Linked DNA regions of Homo sapiens. The protein of the gene in region 1 interacts with the protein of each later gene in a pairwise test. Each region holds a gene or a part of one and is shown on either strand. Other genes may lie near its edges.

Region 1 (3,655 bases):
TGCCAATATTTTATGACTCATGATCCCAGCAAGACTACACCTATTTATAAGGCTGTTTTGCTTGTTTTTACTAAGAGCAACAATAACTACATATTTTCAGTTTACTCAATCATCAAAAAAATTATAAAATCCATAAACACTTTGGATTTGAAACATTGCAACTTTGATAAAAAATGTATCCATGTAGGCCAGGAGCAGTGGCTCACGCCTGTAATCCCAGCACTTTGGGAGGCCGAGGCAGGTGGATCACGAGGTCAGGAGATCGAGACCATCCCGGCTAACACGGTGAAACCTCGTTTCTACTAAAAATACAAAAAATTAGCTGGGCGTGGTGGCAGGTGCCTGTAGTCCCAGCTACTCGGGAGGCTGAGGCAGGAGAATGGTGTGAACCCAGGAGGCGGAGGTTGCGGTGAGCCAAGATCGCGCCACTGCACTCCAGCCTGGGCGACAGAGCGAGACTCCATCTCAAAAAAAAAAAAAAAAATGTATTCATGTTTCCGCTGGTTATTCTACAACTTGGTGAATCCTTCCCATTTTAGAATGCCAAAGAATGAGATGCATTCTAATATCCAGTTGGATGTCAGTATCTTCAGACAGCATGTTTCAAAATCAACTTTCACTGTAGTTGTTTTTGCAAGAAAAGATGACCCTCTTGGAATTAGTAAAAATACACTGCTTTCTCTCCCCTGTATTCAACCAGAGCCAAGAATCTGATAAATGTGTTTATCACAGGTCCTTCAGATACCCTGCATTTGTAAACCTCTACAGTGTTTATGTTTCCTTTTGTACTGCTGAAGATACTGTGCTGGGTCCTGTTCTGCATTCTTGGGGAAAAACAGGGAGCTCACATTTTGTGATTAGTGAGCAAAGACAGACCATCCCCAGGACTGCTGCTCGAGCTGTCTCTGTTGCCCGCTCATCGTCTCTTTCTATTATACTTGCACTCTGAAGGACATTTGCCAGAGCCAGACTCCCTGGATCCCTGTTATTTGTGTCTTTTCTCACCTTCAACATGATCTGAACTAGTGTTTTCATTTGTTAAAAACAACAAGAACATTCACTGGGAAACTTTTGCTGGAATTGCTTCAGGTCATCATAGCTATTTATTCCCTGTCATAAACTATAATTCTCCATTTCCCTTACTCCCACATCAGGGGAGTTGGTGGTTTATGGTAGACAGTCAGTGGAATTTGATTGAACAGTGGAATATTTCAAAGAACTACTGAGATTATGTAGCAGGTTGTAATACTAAGAACAAAACATAAAATATTCTTGGTCTTGATTGCAGTTGGCAGTACAAGAAGAAATAGGCTTTTGAAACAACATAAAAGATTTATAATTTGTGGTTGCACCTAAGAAAGAATTTTCTTTGAGAGAAGAAAACAAGTCATGGGATTGGCTTAATAGGGGATTTTCTCTATATGATTAAAAATAATGGCTTAGTGTCTAATTGGTCTCAGTTAAAACAAAGTACAGAAGCTAAGGATTTTTCTTTTTTTTTTTTGCAGACTTCTGTTTTGGGGGCATGAAATTCAGATAATTGTGCTATCACAAGGGCTTGTATTACTTAGAAAGACCTGAAGTACGAGACAAAATGATTTGGAAAAATGAATAGGAATGGGAGGAATGCTTCCAAATATTAAATAGGAAGGAGAATGCAAGTGCAATGTAACTACTGAAAGGTATTTAATCCTAGGTGTTTGAATTCTAGTGCTGATCTTATTGCAAACTAATTTTGCTAATAGCTAGTGGTATAATCAGTGATGTTGGTTGGAATATTTTAGGCATTGGTAGATCTCAAAAATTATTATTAAATTTGCTCCATTTCCAAGATGCAGCTGATCTTACATTCTTACTGAGTGTCACAGAAGTGCCACCAAAGCTGGGCCCTGAGGTAAGGCACCACAAGTGTAAAATACCAAAGAGAAGGTGGACTGTACAAAACCATGAAGCAGAGAGAAAGGTATGGTAGCTTCTTGGCTGGAGGAATCTGGTTGAGATCATCTGACATTTTTTTCTACAGAAACAGTCTTCTAAGGACAAGAGGAGTTTCACGTTTTCCCTGAAAACAAACTCAGCAAGCATTTACTATATCTGGGTGCTTTAATTATCAAGAAGAAATGTGCAGTCTCTATTCTAAGCTTCAAGGGTATTCCTGGTAAGGAAGCATTGATGAAGAAGGATTCTCTTAGCAAAAGACTTAGAGGCCTCAGTTGTCAGGCCTCTGGATTTAAGCTACATTTTGACTCTGTACACAAATCTAGATCATTCCCTCAATTTGTAATAAAAACAATATTATAGCTGAGGTAGGTGTCATCATGACTTGTGCTAATAGTTTTGCTGAGTACATTGTGTGTTTATAATCAGAGAGAATCAGGAGAATTTGCATATTAGAAGAGAGAGCCAAAAGTACTTTCTAAATAGTGAATGGCCAAGCTCTCCTTGTTCTCCCCATCCTCACTCCAACACTTCATAATTTTCTTTGGGCTGAGCCTCTTTGGGGAAAAGCTATGGGGAATGTAAGTCAAGTTCATTAGATGGAGCATGTGACTTGGGTTTTGGCAGCATGGTGTTGCAAATCTCTGGGACCTACACAGGCTCTGCAGAGCTCAGGCCTTAGGGTGATAGTTTGATTGAGGTGTCAGCACAGCTGGTATTCCATTCAGTTTCACATATACATCACTCCTGACTGGGCTGGGTGGGGGCAGCAGGAGAGGAGCATACTACACTCTGACTGCTATGGACAACCTGGACAATTATCTCACCACGCTACCTTCAGGGGAACTCAGAGAAAACCAAGGAAGGATCTTGACAGGTAAAAATGGAGTTGTGATTCTTCAAAGGTCCCTAAGATCTCAGGGTCCTAGAACTCAAGTTTGAGTGAAACATTTTCAGGGATCTTTCTGAACTGTTTCCTGTTCTTGGGTTCTCAGGGAGTGAGCCCCAGGCTAATGTTAGCTTGGGTTGATGGCATTGTAGCACTAGTCCTGATCTAGGCTGAGGCCTCTGAAGCCTGCCTTTGCAACAGCATGGAGCCTTGAGTGAATGGTGTTAGAAATTACTTGCTGCTTCAAGGAGAGTTCATGGTAAAACAAATCCCTGTAATGTGGTTTGAACATAGTTTCCTCTCTATAACTCTATGTATTTGTTCATGTATATATGTTAGGAGAGAAGGAACCAGGAGATAATTGGTCTACTTGATTATTAAACTATATGAGTGAGCATAATATTGTCAAAGACAAATAAGGTACAAAACCATTTACTCTTCTTCCTTTATCTCTAGAGAAGTCCAAAGAACATGGGCAGGGGTAAGATTTTCCTTGACAAACAGGCATCAAGGATCATGCAAGTAATGTCTCTCTGACAGTTCAGATCTTGTCCCAGATTTAGAGGCAACAGCCAAGCATTAGAGTTGCTGGGATTCTTGACATATGAACTTGAGAGCGCTAATGGCCACATTTGCACATGCAAAGTGGCATTTGGCTATAGGACTTTGATAAAGATGTGAGCAAATGAAGCAAGATCTCACTATAGATATACCATAAAAAAGTCTTAACTGGGACTCCTACAGTGAATTTGGCTTCTTTTCATCATTGTGTTCTATTCCAGATGACCAGCTGAACTCAGAAGAAAAAAAGAAGAGAAAGCAGCGAAG
Region 2 (2,710 bases), on another chromosome or scaffold:
CTTGGGAGGCTGAGGTGCCAGCGGTTGAGGCTGCATAAGGCATGATCATGCCACACAGAATGAGACCCTGTCGCAAAAAAAAAAAGAAAAAAAAAAAAAGGCAGCAAGAGCCTGCCTTGGGATTCCTCCAGGTCTTTGGGTCTAAGACATTAATGCTGTTTGGAAATCCTAGTGAAATGGCACTCGGAAACCTTTCTTGCTCTAGGACTGGAAATCTGGGGTTTATTACCAAAGTCATTCAAATTAATGAAATCATAGCAACTGTCCACCTTCATCTCCCTGGGAATTTGCTGTACGTAGAGTTAACAGTGTTTAGTTATTGGAATTTTTATCATAATAGACTTACACTTCTTAGCTTTGAAATCTTAGAGTTATTAAATCTGAGACTGGAGATTTCAAATAATATTATCATATTCCAAATGGATATCTTTCAGACCAAAATACAGGTGAAAATGGAAAAGCTGTCTTCAACTACCAAGGGAATTTGTGAACTAGAAAACTACCATTATGGGGAGGAGAGTAAACGACCCCCTCTGTTCCACACGTGGCCTACAACCCATTTCTGTAAGTAGTTCCTTCTCAGTTGATTTTCAGGAGGGTAAAGGTTATTAAGGGCATTTAGTATCGTTTACATCTGGTACTTTAAGAAGCTGACAAGGCTTTCAAATTCAATGCAAAAGTATCGGGAGGAAAGGAGACAGAGGCATCTTAAACATTTCTTCTTGGCTTTAATTACCTGGTTATCAGCAGAGTATATGAAACATAGAGACCCGTGAAGCAAGCTGCTGTTATTAGGCCTCTAAAACCAATGGGCAGAGTGAATTCCACCTCCTCTGTGGAAGCAGATATCTCTCATTTTGAGGGGGGGAAAGGAAGAAAGGAGTTTTTTTGGTTTGTTGAGGTTTTTCTTTTGTTTTTTGTTTTAATTAAAAAACAAATTGAGGGTCACTGCAGCCAACCTCATGGAAGATGACTGGGAAAAATGAAACCCATGGCTTCAGTAAACTCTATGAGGCGCTTCTTAAAGGGTTACTTTTAGCTTTTATTAGTTCAAGACAAGGGTAAGCTATTTGATGTTGACCTGAGACTTTTTAAATAAGGCAGGAAAGGGTAAAATCACCTAGTGGAATGTGTTTAGTGAAATATTGTCAGTTTGAGGGGAATCTCCTACTGATAATCACTGTAGGTCACCTAAGAGTCAAGTAGAAAAGGTTATATATACTTTTTTTGAGACAGAGTCTCGCTCTGTCACGCCTGCTGGAGTGTAGTGGTGCAATCTTGGCTCACTACAGCCTCCGCCTCCCAGGCACAAGCGATTCTCGTGCCTCAGCCTCCCAAGTAGCTGAGATTACAGGTGCGTGCCACCACACCTGGCTAGTTTTTGTATTTTTTAGTAGAGACAGGTTTTCGCCACGATGGCTAGGCTGTTCTCAAACTCCTGAACTCAGGTGATCCACCCACTTGGGCCTCCCAAAGTGCTGGGATTACAGGTGTGGGCCACCACGCCCGGCTTGTATACACTTTTTATTTCACTCTGCTGACCATGTTATCAAATTGTACTAATCTGCACCAGCTAGAGTAGTAAACTCCATCGGGCCCTTCTTCCCCTCAGTGCTGTTGCTGATTCTGGTTTTTAATCAAGAGCTGTTAAAATGTAGTTCTTCCCAAGTCGACACTATGTTCTTGAATCACTGCCATTAAGGGAGATTCACGTTTCTTTCAGATGAGGTTTCGCATAAGCTCTTGGAGATGTACAGGAAGGAGCTGCTCCTGAAGCGCACGGTGGCCAAGGAGCTTGCCCACACCGGGGATCCCGACCTCACCCTGAGCTACCTGTCCATGTGGCTGCACCAGCCCTATGTGGAGAGCGACAGCAGGCTGCATCTGGAGAGCATGCTGCTGGAGACAGGCCACCGAGCTCTCTGACGTCCTGAGACGGCTGCGGACACTGGCTCCTTCCACGTCTCACCAGGCAGACAGTCTGCCTAGGACCCAGTGCCGCAGGCCTGGATCAGACCCCAGGATCAGACCTTGGGGTCTTCTGGCCAGAGCTTGTCACCAGCCCCATGGCCTCTCCAGGCGTGCTCATGCCCACAACCCGCGGCCAGCCCCACGTGGTGCTGCTCAGCCTTCTCTGCCCCTCCTGGGAATCTGTCATTCGTGGGTGCTTCAGAGTAAAATCAATGAGTTTCTGAGCAGAATGAGTGAGTGATCTAGTTTCTATAAATTAGGCATGCTTTATACATTATGTTTGTGTAGAAAATCCCTGGTTTAATATTTTTACTTTATGCCTATCTGATTGTTGAAGTTTTTATGAGACTATATTAGTTTTTGGGCCAGGTGCGGTGGCTCATGCCTGTAATCCCAGCACTTTGGGAGGCCGAGGTGGGCGGATCACTTTAGGTTCGGAATTCAAGTCCAGCCTGACCAACATGATGAAACCCTGTCTCTACTAAAAATACAAAAATCAGCTGGCGTGGTGGCGCGTGCCTGCAATCTCAGCTACTTGAGAGGCTGAGGCAGGAGAATGGCTTGAACCGGGAGGCAGAGGCTGCTGTGAGCCATTGCACTCCAGCCTGGGCGACAGAGTGAGACTTCGTCTTAAATAATAAGATCCCATGGAGTTAAAATGAAGTTTGACATCATGAAAATGAAAATAACCTACAAAAAAATTGCCGCTGTTTGCATACTGGGGACATGGCAAGCGATG

What was found. Proteins that work in one complex are often made in the same cells at the same time.
Region 2: the proteins of PRRX1 (region 1) and CINP interact in binary tests that used the Homo sapiens proteins (3 or more experiments, as listed by UniProt).

The regions. Positions count from the first base shown.
Region 1 is NC_000001.11:170,716,117-170,719,771, forward strand, and holds part of PRRX1 (paired mesoderm homeobox protein 1), read left to right. Parts: intron 1-3,609; coding exon 3,610-3,655. UniProt on the Homo sapiens protein: Master transcription factor of stromal fibroblasts for myofibroblastic lineage progression. Orchestrates the functional drift of fibroblasts into myofibroblastic phenotype via TGF-beta signaling by remodeling a super-enhancer landscape.
Region 2 is NC_000014.9:102,347,773-102,350,482, reverse strand, and holds the end of CINP (cyclin-dependent kinase 2-interacting protein), read left to right. Parts: intron 1-434; coding exon 435-564; intron 565-1,723; coding exon 1,724-1,926; 3' UTR 1,927-2,201; downstream 2,202-2,710. UniProt on the Homo sapiens protein: Component of the DNA replication complex, which interacts with two kinases, CDK2 and CDC7, thereby providing a functional and physical link between CDK2 and CDC7 during firing of the origins of replication.